Linked DNA regions of Homo sapiens. The protein of the gene in region 2 purifies or fractionates together with the protein of the main gene of each other region. This does not show direct contact. Each region holds a gene or a part of one and is shown on either strand. Other genes may lie near its edges.

Region 1 (3,819 bases), on a different chromosome or scaffold from region 2:
CAATAAGATTTTTTATCAAAATGTGTCATGCCAGTAAGAGATGTTATATTCTTTTCTCATTTCTTCCCCACCCAAAAATAAGCTACCATATAGCTTATAAGTCTCAAATTTTTGCCTTTTACTAAAATGTGATTGTTTCTATTCATTGTGTATGCTTCATCACCTATATTAGGCAAATTCCATTTTTTTCCCTTGTGCTAAGGTAAAGATTTAATTAAATAATTTTGGCCTCTCATAGTTTTCTCTCTCTTTAAAGAGAATAAATAGAGGGCCAGGTGTGGTGGCTCACGCCTGTGATCCCAGCACTTTGGGAGGCCAAGACGGGCGGATCATGAGGTCAAGAGATCAAGATCATCCTGGCCAACATGGTGAAACCCTGTCTCTACTAAAAATACAAAAATGAGCTGGGCATGGTGGGGCGTGCCTGTAGTCCCATGTACTTGGGAGGCTGAGGCAGGAAAATTCTTGAACCCAGGAGACGGAAGTTGCAGTGAGCTGAGATCACACCACTGCACTCCAGCCTGGTGACAGAGCAAGACTCCGGCTCTTAAAAAAAAAAAAAAAAAAAAAAAAAGAGAGAGAGAGAATAAATAGAAAAGAATGTGGCTGGGAATTGTGAATCAGAAGATTATACCCCCCAATTGTTTTTCAATCCCCTTTTCTCAAATAATAAATTAGTTAAATCAGTTTCTGAGTTATGCCACTGGCTGATGAAGAGTTGAGAGGTCTCTTTGCAGAATGATCTTTTTGTTTCGTTTTGTTTCTTCTTCTGCATTTAAAAATTAAAAGATTGGTTTGAGGATGTGATGAAATTGAGACTTTTTGTGGTTTTCTCTCAATAATAAGTGAACCAATTTCAAATGTGATCACAAAGTTTGGAAAGCTTTTATTCACAGAGGTTGGGTAGTGTTGGGAGGGGAGTTTAATTACTCAGATTGGCCTGTTATTTGATTTCCTCCTTTGGGAAAAGAATTATGTAGATACCACATGGAGACAGGGAAACAATTGTGGTAAAACTGTGGATCCTGTTGCTATTTGCCCAGTGAGAAAACAGATTCTGGTATTTGATTTGGTTTTTCTCTTTGTTTCCAGAATGGATGAAAGTCCATGAACCTCCTAAGTTATAATTTAAATTTGTTTGGGGCAAGGTGATTTTATAGTCGAGACAGAGCCCTAGGTCCTTCCTGCCCCATCACTCACTTACGACATCACTTCCATTGTGTGCATGTTTGTTATAGAGGAGGTTTTAGGCTACAATATTTGTTTAACCTCCCTAAGAACTTTCAAGGCATCTGTCCTGAAAGCTGTTAATTTATGGTCTAGCAGATTTATATTATATGCAGATAATAATTAACTGGGGATAAAAGAATGGCAAGGGGTGACACAAAGTAGCAAACTGAATACTTCTCCAATAGCAACCCCAAGCTACCTCCTCACCCTGCATCTTGGAGGGAGGCAGGAAATTTCTTTTGAAATAAAGTGCTGGAGCTGAATTCTGCATTATTTATCGTTGCTGCTGAAACCACCTATAAAAGACTTGCTGGCTAATGTGCATTGTCATATAATGTACACTGTCACATCTTTACAGTCTTGTATGTTATAGAATACAAAATAAGTTGATGGTTTTGTTTGGTGTGAGCTTTTTGTTTGTTTGTTTAGTTTTGCCTTCATAGGTTATATGCCAAGATAGTATTTGATAAGTCAATGACATTTGGATGTTTTCTTCAAAGAATTTTATTTGACCCAGATTTCTTATAAAGTTATCTTACATTAAGGATGTCATTTTCATCAGACCTTCTTTCTACATATTATTCATGAAGCATAATGTTGCATTTCTCCAAATTTTATGCCTGAAAGGGTAGTGTTGCTTCCTAAGGTATCATGTTGTCTTTGTGCTTTGTCCATCTCTTCCGTGGCGAAGCTTTATATCTGTTCCTAAAACAGTTAATCCTGTGAAATAAATATTGAACATAATCCAGAAGAATCTCTCTGTTTCCCTTGGGGAATGCCATATTTAATTCACCAGCAGTAATCCTTTAATAACTGGCAGAGCACTTTATTCTTCTGGTGAGCTCCCTGAATATTTATTTTTCTGATTATAAATTTTCTATATTAGTAGCATTTTTTAATTATTACTTCTTCACTATAGAGCATTTACTTTTAGTCTCTAGATGTATATTTTGGAATGCTGTACTTGGCATAACATAGATTAAAATCATAATGCATGACTAAAAACTCCTTGGATTTATTTCCCATTTTAAAATTTTTAGCGGTAAGTTCAGATTTATAATCTTTCTCTAGACTTCCATGGTCTGAATGTTGCCTGCTGAAGTAGCAACCTAAAAAGTATCCCCTGCTTATGCTTGTCCAGTTGGCCCTCCATGTCCATAGGCTTCGCATCTGTGATTCAGCCCACTGTGGGTCAAAAATATTTGGGGAAAAAAATGGATGGTTGCGCCTTTGCTGAACATGTACAAACTTTTTTTTGTCATTAAACAATATAGTATAACAACTATTTACAAAGCATTTACATTGTATTAGCTATTATAGGTAATCTAGAGATGATTTAAAGTGTATGGTAGGATGTGCATAGGTTATATGCAAATACTACACCATTTTCTATAAGGGACTTGAACATCATGGACTTTAGTATCCTAGGGGGTTCTTGGAACCCATCACCCATAGGGGCACCATAGGACAACTATAGTACCGTGTTTATTTCCTATTAATTCAGGTTCCGTTTAGAGTCTAAAACTAAAACCTAATCATTTAGTCACAGTGTAAAAACAAATGGAAATAACAGCTCAAATCTTCAAAATATTACTATAGCATTATGTTTAAAATAATCTACAACAAAAATGTACCATTTTCAAGCAGTACTACATTAGGAGCCCTTTTATAGAAAATAATTTCTTCTTTACCCCCGTTCCAGTGTGAATCTAGTATTCTGTTAACATTTGTGTGGCATTTGGAGTTTGTCATCCCCATTGAAGGGAGAGCCTTCTCAGACATGAAGCAAGGGAAACATACTGAATAGTTTTACACAAATTTGATCTGGCTTCCATTTGTCCCCCTCATTTCCCAAATGTTTAAATGTATTGGATTTGGATTCTCAATGTATAAGTTGCCTTATCTGTTAATGTCTATCTTCTGTCTCTTTAATTTTGTATATCTGCTGTTTTGCTTTTGGATACATTTTCTAATTAGAAGTCACATGATAAATATAATCAGTATAGTAATAATACCATAATGTGCACATACTCAATAAATAAATGACTGCATTGTTGTAAATGAGCTCTCCTTTTTGTTGTTGTTGGTTGGCGAGTGGTTTCCATCAAGTCATCATGGGAAAATAATCAAGTTCCATATTCACAGGTTAGGATAGGATGTAATAATTCTCAGAAGAACCCTTCTAGTATGATATTTGCTTATCAAAATGTCTCAGAAACAAAATATTTGAAAATACTGTCACATTTATTGTATTTCTCTCTGTTCTTATGCCGTGCATGTAGAATGTACCCAATGTTTATGAATTAATAGATAAATAAGGTCTATTGTCTTTTGAAAATATTTATTGCTGAAATGATTTATTGGAACAACCTGTCATATCAAACATCATATTAGAACATAATCAAAGAACATAAATCATCATCCATATTTCCACATTTTGCATTAGATATTGGGATGCTTAACTCATCTCAATCTCATTAACTGACTATTCCACAACTAGGTAGGCTCACCTCTGCCTCATTTGTTTATTAGTTTAAGATATTTTTCCAACTGTATAAAGTTAAGACAGATGTTTCTGTTGCACGCTCT
Region 2 (7,037 bases):
TTTATTACTACGTTTTGTAATATATTTTGATATCCAGTAGTGTATCTTCTCCTTTATTATTCTTCATTCTATTTTATTTATTTATTTATTTATTTATTTATTTATTTTTGAGACAGAGTCTCTATCATGCAGGCTGGCGTGCAGTGGCATGATCTCGGCTCACTACAACCTCCGCCTCCCAGGTTCAAGCGATTCTTCTGCCTCAGTCTTCCCAGTAACTGGGACTACAGGTGCGGGTCACCACGCCCAGCTAATTTTTGTATTTTTAGTAGAGATGGGGTTTCACCATATTGGCCAGGCTGGTCTCAAACTCCTGACCTCATGATCCACCTGCCTTGGCCTCCCAAAGTGCTGGGATTACAGGCGTGAGCCACCGCACCTGGCCTATTTTTTTAAAGATGAGATCTTGCTCTGTTTTCCAGGCTAGCTTGCAGTGGCATGGATCATAGCTCACTGCAGCTTTGAACTCAAGCGATCCTTTCACTTCAGTCTCCCAGGTTGCTGGGATTACAGGCATGAGCCACCATACCTACCTCATTGTTCATCATTTTAAAAATTGACTTGGCTATTCTTAAAGATTTTTACTTTATGATGAATTAGATTCACCCTGTCTAGTTTCTAGAAATCTGTTGGGAATCAGTTTAGATTGCATTGGATTTACAAATGGAATTATGAATAGAATTGACATCTTTTTAATTTTGCATTTAATTTTCCCATCCAGTAACTTTGTATATCTATTTATTCAGGTCCTCATTTACATGAAATAGAAGTTTAATGTTTTTCTTCATAATACTCCTATACATGTGTTGAAGCCTACCAACCAAAATGTACCAGGAACACATTTGTAGTCAAAAAAAGGTTAAGTTTATTTAGCTTGCTGCATAAAGAGAAAATATACCCCAGAAGAACTGCGGGAGCATCTCATCAAGGGGAATTAGAAGGGCTTCTCATAGGGTTTAGGCTTTAAGCAGATGATTCAAAGGAGGATTAAGGAAGCCAGAGGCCAGCAGGACATAGTGGCTCATGCCTGTAATCCCAGCACTTTGGAAGGCTGAAGTGGGAGGATCACTTGAGGCCAGGAGTTCAAGACTAGCCTGTACAACATAGCAAGATCCCATCTTTACAAAAATAAAAATAAAAATTTAGCCAGATGCAGTGGTGCACACCTGTAGTTCCAGCTACTTAGGAGGCTGAAGTGGGAGGATAACTTGGGCTCAGGAGGTGAAGGCTGCAGTGAACCATGATCATGCCACTGCACTCTAGCCCAGCAGACAGAGTGAGACCCTGTCTCTTTAAAAAACAAAAAGAAGCAGAGGCCAGTTTTGGATCATCATCCCTCTGGAAATAATATGCTTCTAAAATGCTCAGTTTTGAGTACGTGATACTCTTATTGTCTCCTCAGTTAAAAATGATTTATTAAAATGAAGTCTTGCTCCTGTAGCAGTAGTGAATATTACATGCTTTATAGTGAGTGATTTATTAATCAGTTTTATCTGGTAACAGTGATAATTTCTATGTATACAAGTGGAAATTGGATCGCCTTTTGATGTTGTATTTTTCTATATGTATCAGCCTAGTGGTTGCATTAAAATTCATTTGTATTTCTTCCCCCTGTAGCAAAATCCTTTATATGATACAGAAAGATGCAAGGTATTCCAGTGTGATCTGACTAAAGATGATCTTCTGGATCATGTACCGCCAGAGTCTGTGGATGTTGTTATGTTGATATTTGTGCTGTCAGCTGTTCATCCTGATAAGATGCACCTTGTCTTACAAAACATTTACAAGGTTAGTGATTTGGGGCCTGCACTTGAGGGTTGGACAGTCTGGATTCTTTTACTTACCTTCCCTCATGAGGCTCATGTACTGTCTAGATTCACATAGTCTCTCCATTCTCACTAGGTAGGCTGTGTAGTGAGTGTATAGAAAGGGGTCCTCTGGCATAAAACATCCACCCTAAATTCTGATTTGTGCAGTGCCATGGCTGCTCTTCAGAGCTTCGCCAGCCCTGGGACAAGGATGATTTTGCAGTTACCTGGGATCCATGGAGTCCTGCTATAAGGTGAGAGGAGTTATGGTTTAGTGGTCAAGAGTACACAGTTTGGCCAGGTGTGGTGTTTCATGCCTGTAATCCCAACACTTTGGGATGCCAAGGCAGGTGAATCACTTGAGGTCAGGAGTTTGAAACCAGCCTGGCCAACATAGCAAGACCTTGTCTAAAAAAAGCTAATGTATGATCATTGGCAGATCACTTAACCCTGTTGAGTATTGGTTTCCGTGTCTCATGTGAGAATAATAATCACATTCCTTTGTCCCACAGTTGGGTGAAGATACAATGAGAAAATGTATGGTTAAGCAGTCAAATGCTAGGCATGTATCAGTCATTAGCACCGTGATTGAGCTATACATTGTGGCACAATGAAATGAGAGCTGAGGCTCAGAATGAGGAAAACCAACCTGAATCAGTAAAGAGCCAAAACGACATTCTGGTTTTTTGTTTGTTTGTTTGTTTGTTTTTTTAAGAGACAGTTGAATACAGTTTGAGTACTAGGAGATGGTGAATAAAATGTTGCAAGAAAGTGCTTCAATGAGGATAACACTTTCATTTATTGTCTCTAACACTTATTTATTTATTTTTGAGACAGGGTCTTGCTGTGTCACTCAGGCTGGAGTGCAGTGGCATGGACGTGGCTCACTGCAGCCTCAACTTCCTGGGCTCAAGCAGTTCTCCCACCTCAGCCTCTGAAGTAGTTGGGACTACAGGACGCACTACCAGATCCAGCTAATTTTTAATTTTTGTGTAGAGATGGGGTCTCACTATATTGCCCAGGTTGGTCTCTAACATTTTAATCCTGTGACACTGGACATTCCAGGGTGCTCTTGGAGGTACTCAAGAATTGTCTTCAGGGACGAGCGAGGTGGCTCACGCCTGTAATCCCAACTTTGGGAGACTGAGGTGGGCAAATTACTTGAGGTCAGGAGTTCGAGACTAGCCTGGCCAACATGGTGAAACCTCATCTCTACTAAAATACAAAAATTAGCCGGGCATGGTGGCGGGCACCTATAATCCCAGCTACTCGGGAGGCTGAGACACGAGAATCACTTGAACGTGGGAGACGGAGGTTGCAGTGAGCTGAGATTATGCCACTGCACTCCAGCCTGGGCGACAGAGCAAGACTCCATCTCAAAAAAAAAAAAAAAAGAAGTGTCTTAGTGTTATGGAGCCCTGCCTGGTCTTACTATCTTTTTAAGTAGTAGGCCATTTTGGTTCCGTATTATGGGCATTTCAGTCTGTCCCCTTAGTAACTATCACAAATTTATTTTAAGTCCTAACTTAATCAGGTTTTATTTTGACAGGGTTCTCCAAAGTCATGTTCAGCCTGCTTTTGTTTCATAGGTATTAAAACCAGGCAAAAGTGTCTTGTTTCGTGACTACGGACTGTATGATCATGCCATGCTTAGGTTTAAAGCCAGCAGCAAACTTGGAGAAAACTTTTATGTTAGACAAGATGGGACCAGATCATATTTTTTTACTGATGGTAAGATGAATGGAATCCAGTCTTTAAATGTTTTATTCTTTGTTTCTGTTTATTTGATTGCATTATCACTGCAAGGCTGCTTGGAGAAGGCTTGCGACATGTGCACGAGACCCTGAAACAAGCCCTCTACTGCACAATATTTACCCAGCACCTGGAAGGCACAGACCTGGCCCCTGCCCTTGAAGAGCTCACAAGCCTTCTCTGGTGTCAGTGACTCCCCTAATGAGCTTGGGTTAATGGACAGCCTCTGACATGCCATGTGGATTCCCTACTAGGAATTGTGCTGGAATAAGAGGGAGGGCAAGTCAGAAACTTCTTGTCCAGTTAAAAATAAAGCAAATTTGACAGTATAATGCCTTGAGATTACTTTCCCATGGCACAAAGTCAGGAAACCTTTTTCTGTAGAATTGATTGGATCTGTTTTGGGGTTTGGTTTTTTTGTTGTTTTTGAGACAGAGTCTAATTCTGTCACCCAGGCTGGAGTGCAGTGGTGTGATCTTGGCTCACTGCAGCCTCCACCTTCCAGACTCAAGTGATCCACCGAAGCCTCCTGAGTAGCTGGGACCACAGACACATGCCACCATGGCTGGCTAATTTCTTGTATTTTTGGTAGAATGGGGGTTTCACCATATTGCCCATGCTGGTCTCGAACTTCTGAGCTCAAGTGATCCATCTGTCTCAGCCTCCAAAAGTGGTGGGATTACAGGTGTTAGTCACCATGCCTGTCCTGGATCTGTTTTTAAATAAATATGCAAATTTGCTGTAAAGAGGCATTTATTTATTTTTGAGACAGAGTCTTACAGGCTGGAGTGCAGTGGCATGATCTTGGCTCACTGCAACCCCCACCACCCAGGCTCAAGTGATTCTCATGCCTCAGCCTCCCAAGTAGCAAGGATTACAAGTGTGTGCCACCACACCCAACTAATTTTTGTATTTTTAGTAGAGATGCGGTTTTGCCATGTTGGCCAGGCTGGTCTCAATCTCCTGGTCTCAAGTGATCTGCCCACTTCAGCCTCCCAAAATTCTGGGACTGCAGGTATGAGCCACCATGCCCAGCCTAAAGAGGTATTTAAAAAGTCATTTTTGATAAGAAAATGTGGAACATTATTTTGGTCTTTTAGGTGTCTTGAACATAGTCTACCTAATCATCTAGACAGGAAGATAATTAACCTCTATTTTAACAAACATTTTTCTTCTTGAAATGAAATATTCTTTTAGATACCAAAATGAATTAAAATTGAGTGATTACTATTAAAGCTGCAAAATTATTTGGGAGACTGAGATAGAAGGATCACTTGAGCTCAGGAGTTCGAGACCAGCCTGGGCAACCGTGAAACTTTGTCTCTACTAAAAATAAAAAAAAAAAAATATTAGCCAGGAGTGGTGGCATGCACTTGTGGTCCTGCTGCTTAGGAGGCTGAGGCAAGAGGATCATTTGGCCCCAGAAGATGGAGGCTGCAGTGAGCTATGATCATACCACTGCCCTCCAGCCTGGGCGACAGGGCGAGAAGCCTATCTCAAAAAAACAAAACAAAACAAAACAAAATGCAAAATTATCAAAATAGGTTAAAATTCAAAAGATGTTTTAATTCATAAAATTTAAACCAATTGTAAATATTGAGAAGATTCAGTGATATCTGCAGAGTGCTTCAGAGCACGTTCTCTGGAGCAATGCTCTTAGTACGAGTCTTTATTTTTGCTGCCTCACCATTTATTCTGTTTGTTTCATTTAATGTGTAGTGATGTATTATTTGGGTTAGATTTTCCTGGAGCTAGGTCACCACTGGGTGTTTTTCTCCACTCTGATCACAAATTTTCCTCCTTCGTGTTAGGATGAATAAGATGTTTGATGTAAACAAATTGAGCACATGCAGACCTTGTAGGAGTATAGCCAATTTTTATGTTTTTGTTCGGAGATGGGAAACAATAAGATAATTTTTAAAAAGGAATATAATCGGCCGGGCCCAGTGGCTCATGCGTGTTATCTCAGCACTTTGGGAGGCCAAGATTGGGGGATCATTTGAGGTCAGGGGTTTGAGACCAGCCTGGCCAACATGGCGAAACCCTGTCTCTACTAAAAATACAAAAAAATTAACCAGGCATGGTAGTGTGTGCCTGTAGTCCCAGCTACTTAAGAGGCTGAGGCAGGAGAATCACTTAAGCCCAGGAATCGGAGGTTGCAGTGAGCCGAGATCGTGCTCCTGATCTAGCCTGGGTGACAGAGTGACATTGTGTCTCAAAAAAAAATTTTTTTTTAATTAAAAAAAAAAAGGAATATAACCAATTTGGAATTGTTTCTTTTTACTCGGGCTTTTGTATTTGAGAATTCATAATAAGGCAAGATGCGAACACCAGGTTGTCCTTCACCTTGTTCTGATTTAATTGTTTAATTGGAGGTTTCTGTTTGGGTAGAAGAGGAGAAGGAGTGTATTAGTTCCCAAATCAAAACCTTTAAATTTTAGCATTGAGGTTTTCATTTAAAAAAATATTAAAATAGCCTCAGCCCTCTATCCCTCCTCAAGGACTGCAAAGCAAATGTAATGTTATGAAGACTGTTGAGCATTGTTGATGCTTGTCTTACAGACTTCCTGGCTCAGCTCTTTATGGACACAGGTTATGAAGAAGTGGTAAACGAGTATGTGTTTCGAGAGACGGTGAATAAAAAAGAAGGCCTGTGTGTGCCAAGAGTTTTCCTTCAGAGCAAATTTCTAAAGCCTCCTAAGAACCCATCTCCTGTGGTCCTGGGCCTGGATCCTAAGTCCTGACCTTTCATGAGGTTGGCATTTATACCTTCCCTTGAAGAGGAAAATTTAAAATCACTCTTTCGTCTGGGTGCGGTGGCTCATGCCTGTAATCCCAGCACTTCGGGAGGCCGAGGTTGGGGGATCATCTGAGGTCAGGAGTTTGAGACCAGCCTGGCCAACATGGTGAGACCCCATCTCTACTAAAAATACAAAAAAATTAGCTGGGCATAGTGGCGAGTGCCTGTAATCCCAGCTACTCAGGAGGCTGAGGCAAGAGAATCGCTTGAACCCAAGAGGCGGAGACTGCAGTGAGCCAAGATCATGCCATTGCACTCCAGCCTGGGCGACAGAGTGAGACCCTGTTTCATAAATAAATAAAATCACTCTTTTTACTTTATATATTTTTTGAGACAGGATCTTGTGGTACGCAGGCTGGAGTGCAGTGGTGTGTGATCACAGCTCATTGTAGCCTCGACCTCCCCTGGGCTCAAGCAGTCTTCCTGCCTCAGCCTCCTGAGTAGCTAGGACTACAGGTGTAAGCCACCATGCCTGGCCCTTAATTTTTTTTAATGAGCATGTACAGTAGTCCCGCTTTATCCATGGTTTCACTTACCACAATTTCAATTACCTGTTTTCAACTGCAGTCAGTTACTTTTCTTAAGATATTTTGAGGGTTATAGGCTCATGCCTATAACCCCAGCACTTTGAGAGGCCAAGGCCAGCAGATCCCTTGAGCCCAGGAGTTCAAGACCAG
Region 3 (7,037 bases), on a different chromosome or scaffold from region 2:
GGAGAATTTTCACTTGCAGATGCTGGGCTTTGATCTTTATTAGACTAAGTGCTTTATCAGAATAACCAAACTAAAAACCGCTTTTGATTTTATGGGGTTAGAGGACAGTAGTGGTGGAATGATCCAATGAAGAGATCCTAGCATCTTTTCAACTGGTAGCTGCTTAGGCTTAATAGAGAAGAAAAATAAGATTTCAATCTACTCTGACAAAGAATGGAAAAAAATGGTACATAATTTTTACCTGCTGCCAGGATCTAAGAGCATCATTGGTCAAAATGCTTTCTTCATTTCGTTTCTTTTTTTTGAGATAGAGTCTCACTCTGTCGCTCAGGCTGGGGTGCAGTGGTGCAATCATGGCTCACTGCAGTCTCAACCTCCTGGTCTTAAGGTGGTAATCCTCCCGCCTCAGCCTCCTGGGCAGCTGGGACTATAGGTGCACACCACCATGCCAGGCTAACTTTTTTTTTTTTTTTAGAGATGGGGTATCACCATGTTGCCCAGGGTTGGTCTCGAGCTCCTGGCCTCAAGCAATCTTCCCGCCTCGGCCTCCCAAAGTGCTGGGATTACAGGTGTACGCCACCGTGTCTGGCTGATTTCTCTCATTTCTAATGCTAGGGCAGACAGACAGCACTGACTACGACTGTGGAGTTCAGTCTTCATTATTCTAAATGACCCAGCAATCTATTGCCTAGATACCATATCCACTCTCTGTCACAGATCCATGAAGAAGCACTTCTACCAGAAAGTTACATTGAAATTTGTAGATAACTTGTTATTTTGACATTTTTTATCATAATTAATGTGGGGGCCCAAACTTCTGAGGGTAACAGTAATTCAGCCAAGCCACTGAGTAGATGATATACAAAAAGAGACAAATGAAAATGGACTGCGTGAAACATCAGATCCAAGCAGCAGAAACACAAGGACAAGGAAGGAGTAAAGGTGTTACACACAAAGAGCCAAGCAGGGCGTACTCAGAAATCGGGTCCTCCTGCCACCAGGTTTGAATGTCACCTGTTCAGATGCACAGTTAAACTTCGCACAGCCTGTGAGAGGGGAAAAACAGGGTAGAACAGAGAGAGGAGAAGAGACAGAACACAACTACAAGATGTTAGAAACTTGAGGCTGGAGTGGTGAAATGCACTAAGATGGCACACAGAAGAACAAGCTTCTGGGGGGAAGGTCAGATATGTAAGAGATGAAATATTAGGTCTTAATTCTACCCATCTGCAAAATGCGGAAGCTTTTCTTAGTTCGAATAATGCTAGCTAGTTTGCCCTCCTTACCAATCAAGTGCATTCTTCCTGTGAAGAGACTGATCTCTAATTTCTGTGAAACTGTGGCAAAGGCACATAAGCCAGTACCTATATTTTTTTCATTCTTCTCACCCAGATGCCCAAGTCTTTTCAATTCTTGTTCTAATATGACTAAAAGCTCTTTCCTCTGTGGGAATTTTTTCAGCAATCACTAATAAACAGAGCTATATTTGGAAAGTAGATTATGGATAAAAAACTGAATTGTAAGGTTATTCATTTTAGTATGCCACTCCCATACTTAAAAGTAACAAAATTCTACAATGGCTAAGAAAATGTATTAGCTTCAGAAACTGCTAAAACACCTTAGAATTTCATCCAGGAAATCTCAGCCTAATATTAAAGCCTAAGTTCCAAATCCCAAATGAGCAAGTCATATAGGCCACACAGATGTAACTTTTCACTGTAATTCCTTGAAAAAAAGTAATTTCACCTAATGGGAGCAGTGAGCCCACCGATTCTCATTATCACTCCACTTCCCTTTTCACCCAGATTCTTCAGTGTACAACACACAGGCTGTGTTCTGGTCAGCTAGTCTCCCAACCCGCCTTAACAGGCTTTTGTCCCAGGTATGGCAACATCTCCATTTTATTGTTTTTGGACGATGATGGTTGCTTTATTACCTTGACCTGGAGCAGAAAGGCTTGGTACTGAAATGGCACCATCACTGGTGAAGGCTGAATAGAGGTTGTCACTGGAGGGAGATGGCTTAAGGGGCTGTAACAGCTGATTCTGCCCGGACTCTGGGATGTTGCCAGGAGGGTGGAGGGTCTGCTGGGGGTGCAAGACTGAAGCTGCACTCTGACCAGACAGGTTACCTGCCAAAAGATAAAGTGGCATGAGGAAACATGTCCAGCTCTTCCCATGCACTCATCAGGCACTGTTCTTATACATTTGGTTTGTTCCACTGAGTGATGAATGATGGGTCAAAAGCTACAAACTGATGAGAAGAACAAAGTCCTCACTAACGGGAGAAGTGAGGAATGACACTAAGACTCAATAGATAGGCTGGGTGTTGTGGCTCACGCCTATAATATCCCAGCACTTTGGGAGGCCAAGGTGGGCGGATCACCTGAGGTCAGGAGTTCGAGACCAGCCTGGCCAACATGATGAAACCCTGTCTCTACTAAAAATATAAAAATTAGCCAGGCGTGGTGGAGGGTGCCTATAATCCCAGCTACTCAGGAGGCTGAGGAAGGAGAATTGCTTGAACCCAGAGGCAGAGGCTGCAGTGAGCCGACATCATGCCACTGCACTCAAAAAAAAAAAAAAAAAAAGAAAAGAATCCATAGGTAATAGGGCCATATGTACTATTCCAGAGCTTTTTAGCTTTAGAAAACCTAGATGGGCCACATGTCTGAGCAGCGTAAGAAGACCAGAGTACCTAGTGGATACCCAGATTCCATTCTGCAATTCCATGATTGCTTTTTTTTTTACCCTATTAGAAAATGTGTTGAATCATTATACAAAAAGGTTTGCTAGGCAGTCTCTGCTTAGACTTTCCTATAAACGTGCATCAGAGCAAATACAAAAGAGGTGTTCAAAAATGATGGAGGTCACTACAGAGCAATGGGTGTTTAAAATTATTTTTGGTAGGTTGCTTTCAATAGGTCGGTTGTCCTAAAATTGACTCTCTGCTCCCCGGTTCCCAGTTGAATTCAAGTCCACTCAAAAAGTATGTCAAAATTAGGATTAGAATTTGATTAGGATCATAGCTGGGCATAGTGGCTCATGCCTGTAATCCGCACTTTGGGAGGCTGAGGCGGGCGGATCACCTGAGGCCAGAAGTTTCAGACCAGTCTGGCCAACATAGTGCAACTAAAAATACAAAAATACAAAAATTAGCCAGGTGTTCTTATACATTTGGTTTGGGATTACATGCTTGTAATCCCAGCTACTTGGGAGGCTGGGGCATGAGAATTGCTTGAACCTGGGAGTTGGAGGTTGAGCCACTGCCGACTCTGCCTCAAAAAAACAAAAACAAAAACAAAAAAGATCTGATTGGGATCAGATCAGAAATTAGCTGATTTCTCTTACAATCACATCTCTACTAATGGGCTGCATGAACTGGCCCTAATGTGCTACATTTGGATATCTGTGAACCTTTCCAGAGAATGGAACTGCTAAGAAGTTTGCAACTGCTTTTTAACATATTTTAACCTTCTTTTACTTTTCAACTAATTGTGTTAACACTACCATAATTTCACCAAAGGATTAGAAACTCTCTATCTATCCCAATTAAAATATAGTCCAGGGCCGGGCACGGTGGCTCACGCCTGTAATCCCAGCACTTTGGGAGGCCAAGGTGGGTGGATCACCTGAGCCAGGAGTTTGAGACCAGCCTGGCCAACATAGTGAAACCCCATCTCTACTAAAAATACAAAAATTAGCCAGGCATGGTGACATGTGCCTGTAATCCCAGCTACTATGCGGGGCTGAGGCAGGAGGATCACTTGAAACTGGGAGGCGGAGAATGCAGTGAGCCGAGATCGTGCCACTGCACTCCAGCCTGGGCAACAGAGCGGGATTCTGTCTCAAAAAAAAAATTCAAAGTTAGCAGGGCATGGTAGTGTGTGCCTGTAATCCCAGCTACCCAGGAAGCTAAGGTAGGAGGACCACCTGAGCCTAGGAGTTTGAGGCTGTTGTGTTGTGTGCTATGATCACACCACTGCACTCCAGTCTGGGCAACAGAGTGAGGCCCTGTCTCTTAAAATAAATAAATATATATATATACTACATTACAAAAGAGTATCACTTAACTATTTCTTTGATTTTAATGACTAGCAAGTTCTTCTTTTTTTTTTTTTTTTTGAGACAGAGTCTTGCTCTGTCACCGAGGCTGGAGTGCAGTGGTGCAATCTCAGCTCACTGCAAGCTCCGCCTCCCGGGCTCATGCCATTCTCCTGCCTCAGCCTCCTGAGTAGCTGGGACTATAGGCGCCTGCCACCATGCCCACCTAATTTTTTTATTTTTAGTAGAGACAGGGTTTCACCGTGTTAGTCAGGATGGTCTTGATCTCCTGACCTCGTGATCTGCCTGCCTCAGCCTCCCAAAGTTCTGGGATTACAGGCGTGAGCCACCGTGCCTAACCAATGACTAGCAAGTTCTTTAACCCAATATAAATGAAATAAAAACCTTAATCAAGAAGTTACCACTTAGACATACACACAAATATCTATATGACGATTACATTCATCTAAGTTGCAATTATGACTAAGTCATCCATTAAAACAAAGAATCTACCCAAGTTTTACTAAACAGAGAATAATGTATTTTCTTCCAACTGCCCAAGAGTTTGGTTAAATGTGAGTTATACGAGTTAACAGGCAAAGCTAAATGTCTATCCTTAAGAATAACTATAAATAAAGATTACCAGTAGATAGCAATATGGATTACAATGGAATAAGCCATTGTATTCACTAAGTCTACTTCTATAGACTCAAAAAGAGGTACAATAAATGTAAGTACAGCAGTCAAGGAAGCAAAAATATCAGGAGAGCCAAATTCCTTTGAAATTTAACAAAAACAACAAATGTTCAGCAGGTCACATACAGCTGGAGACAGAAACAAAAGATAGGACAGCTGTGGCTGACCTAGTCCAGGGCTTTTTACCTGAAAGCTGGGGGCTTTTATTCCCCAAGGAACTGCTTCGACTAGATTTGCTGCCTTTGCTTTTAGTGGGTCGTCGTCTTCTCCCTGAAAGGGGAGCAGCTGGGGGAATAATAACAGCAGGGGGCACCTTGCCCAGTTTGGTATACAAAGATTCAATTTCATGCTTCTGGCGACTCTGCAGGTCCTGAATCTCTTTGAGATGTCTGTGAAAGATAACCAAACATAATTCAAAATACCATAATCCTCTTCATTCAGACAAGAATTAACAGCATATTCCTAAACCTGCTTTCAAGTATGTAGTAGTTACTAATGAACCTTTTCCCCAAATGTACTACCACGAGATTCTAGTTTGTCAACTCACCTTGCTGGCCTGCATTACCCAAGCCATGTTCCAACAAGCTCCTAGCCAACAACAAATGGTTGATAATGTTTTAGGAGAAAAACATTTCCTGACTTTTGAGGCCACGCACACAATAGCTGAATTTGCTACTCTGACCCAATCTGCCAAACAAAACGTGCCAAATAATCATACATCCCAGTGCCAGATTCATTTAGTGGACTAATAAATAAAGAGCAGTTAATAGTGATACAATATGCTATTAATAAAAATAATAATACAATACAGTAACAATAATACAGTAATAATATAGTAACAATGAAGAAGTTCTAGAACTAGAAATGCTATGGGTCTGTATGAGTGCAAGAGAAGCTGCCTGTGCCTGTGAGTCAGTGGTTGGGAATCGTGTGTGTGTGTGTGTGTGTGTGTGTGTGTGTGTGTGTGTGTGTGTGTGTGTGGTGGGGAGGTATGGGGTGGGGCTTCTGTGGCACTGTCTCTTTAAAAGAAATGAGACATTAGCATATTGTGGCGAAAAATATTATTAATCTTGGCCCTGGGATCTAGGTCTGAAAACCTTATCTGACATTCTTTCACAAGAGAAAATATACTTACTTATCTCGTAGTCGTCGCAGCTCTAACTTTAAGTCTTCATCTTCGATATCTGACTCATTGTCGCTACTCATGTAAGAGGAGTTAAATGAATTACTAAGGCTTTGACTTAGATTCTGGCTAGGAAGGCTCTTTGAGCTCAGCTGATGGGGCGAGTGTGGACTACCGGAACCATCATCCACATCCCTACTTAAAAAAGCGGCCTCCGGGTCAGAAGACGGCCCATTTAGATGTGAAGGCTCTGACAGTTCAGGCTTCTCTTTCTTTGGTATCACAGCAGGAAGAACAGCTTGTTCCAAATCCATAAAAGGAGGAGATGCCACTGGTCCTTCTTTCTTTGTGTCAGTGATCTTGTCCTCAGTTTTTGATACAGAGAAACGACCCACTTTGTTTGCTGTAGTTGTCACCTGAAAACGTCCAACCTTGGTAGGCTGCCCAGTGTCTGACTTTGCCTCTGAGGCAGTAGTTTTGTGGGCACTCTCTGGCACATCTGAAGAGATACCAGGGATGGTTATGCCATTCGGCTCTGGTTTCACCAAGGTACTCTCTGGACTACTACTTGATAGCACTGAGGACTCTGAGGTGCTGGATTCAAAATGAACAGACTTTGCATCTTCTGACTTATTTTTACCCTCTTTCTGGGCACCGTCTGCTGCAACAGAAACCTGATAAAAAAGGACAAAGATTAAAAACTTAAGTTCTCAATATCCAATTTCTATCACAGACAATTTAAAAAAGGAAAAAAAGAATCACTTTATTTCCCTGTCAAAGAGTAGGCTGATTGTCTCTTTACATAGCGCCTCCACTTTTGACTAGGAAGAAAAATTGAATACCATCATAGAGAACACATGGGTACTGAGATGCAGATTCTGTGTGGCTGGCTACGCTTATAAAGTAAATAATTTACTTTCGTATTTGATGTCATACACAGAATTCAGATTTATGTCTTAGTCAACATATACATAACAAAAGGTCAGGGCCAGGCATAGTGGCTCATGCCTGTAAGCCCACCATTTTGGGAGGCTGAAGCAGGTGGATCACTTGAGGTCAGGAGTTTCAGATCAGCCTGGCCAACGTGGTGAAACCCTGTCTCTACTAAAAATACAAAAATTAGCCAGGCATGGTAGCGTGTGCCTGTAATCCCAGCTACTTGGGAGGCTGAGGCA

Evidence for each region. Proteins that work in one complex are often made in the same cells at the same time.
Region 1: the proteins of METTL6 (region 2) and PDLIM5 purify together in Homo sapiens (affinity purification with mass spectrometry; 3 studies listed by BioGRID and IntAct, with this or other methods). This does not show direct contact.
Region 3: the proteins of METTL6 (region 2) and WNK1 purify together in Homo sapiens (affinity purification with mass spectrometry; 3 studies listed by BioGRID and IntAct, with this or other methods). This does not show direct contact.

What each region holds. Positions count from the first base shown.
Region 1 is NC_000004.12:94,664,933-94,668,751, forward strand, and holds the end of PDLIM5 (PDZ and LIM domain protein 5), read left to right. Parts: 3' UTR 1-1,092; coding exon of another isoform or gene 1,093-1,094; 3' UTR 1,095-3,291; downstream 3,292-3,819. UniProt on the Homo sapiens protein: May play an important role in the heart development by scaffolding PKC to the Z-disk region. May play a role in the regulation of cardiomyocyte expansion. Isoforms lacking the LIM domains may negatively modulate the scaffolding activity of isoform 1.
Region 2 is NC_000003.12:15,410,523-15,417,559, reverse strand, and holds part of METTL6 (tRNA N(3)-cytidine methyltransferase METTL6), read left to right. Parts: intron 1-1,617; coding exon 1,618-1,788; intron 1,789-1,902; coding exon of another isoform or gene 1,903-1,926; exon of another isoform or gene 1,927-1,941; intron 1,942-1,976; coding exon of another isoform or gene 1,977-2,062; intron 2,063-2,645; coding exon of another isoform or gene 2,646-2,751; exon of another isoform or gene 2,752-3,397; coding exon 3,398-3,539; exon of another isoform or gene 3,540-3,614; coding exon of another isoform or gene 3,615-3,753; exon of another isoform or gene 3,754-3,889; intron 3,890-6,122; coding exon 6,123-6,304; 3' UTR 6,305-7,037. UniProt on the Homo sapiens protein: S-adenosyl-L-methionine-dependent methyltransferase that mediates N(3)-methylcytidine modification of residue 32 of the tRNA anticodon loop of tRNA(Ser), including tRNA(Ser)(UGA) and tRNA(Ser)(GCU).
Region 3 is NC_000012.12:895,570-902,606, reverse strand, and holds part of WNK1 (serine/threonine-protein kinase WNK1), read right to left. Parts: intron 6,537-7,037; coding exon 5,875-6,536; intron 5,129-5,874; coding exon 4,926-5,128; intron 2,132-4,925; coding exon 1,937-2,131; intron 1-1,936. UniProt on the Homo sapiens protein: Serine/threonine-protein kinase component of the WNK1-SPAK/OSR1 kinase cascade, which acts as a key regulator of blood pressure and regulatory volume increase by promoting ion influx.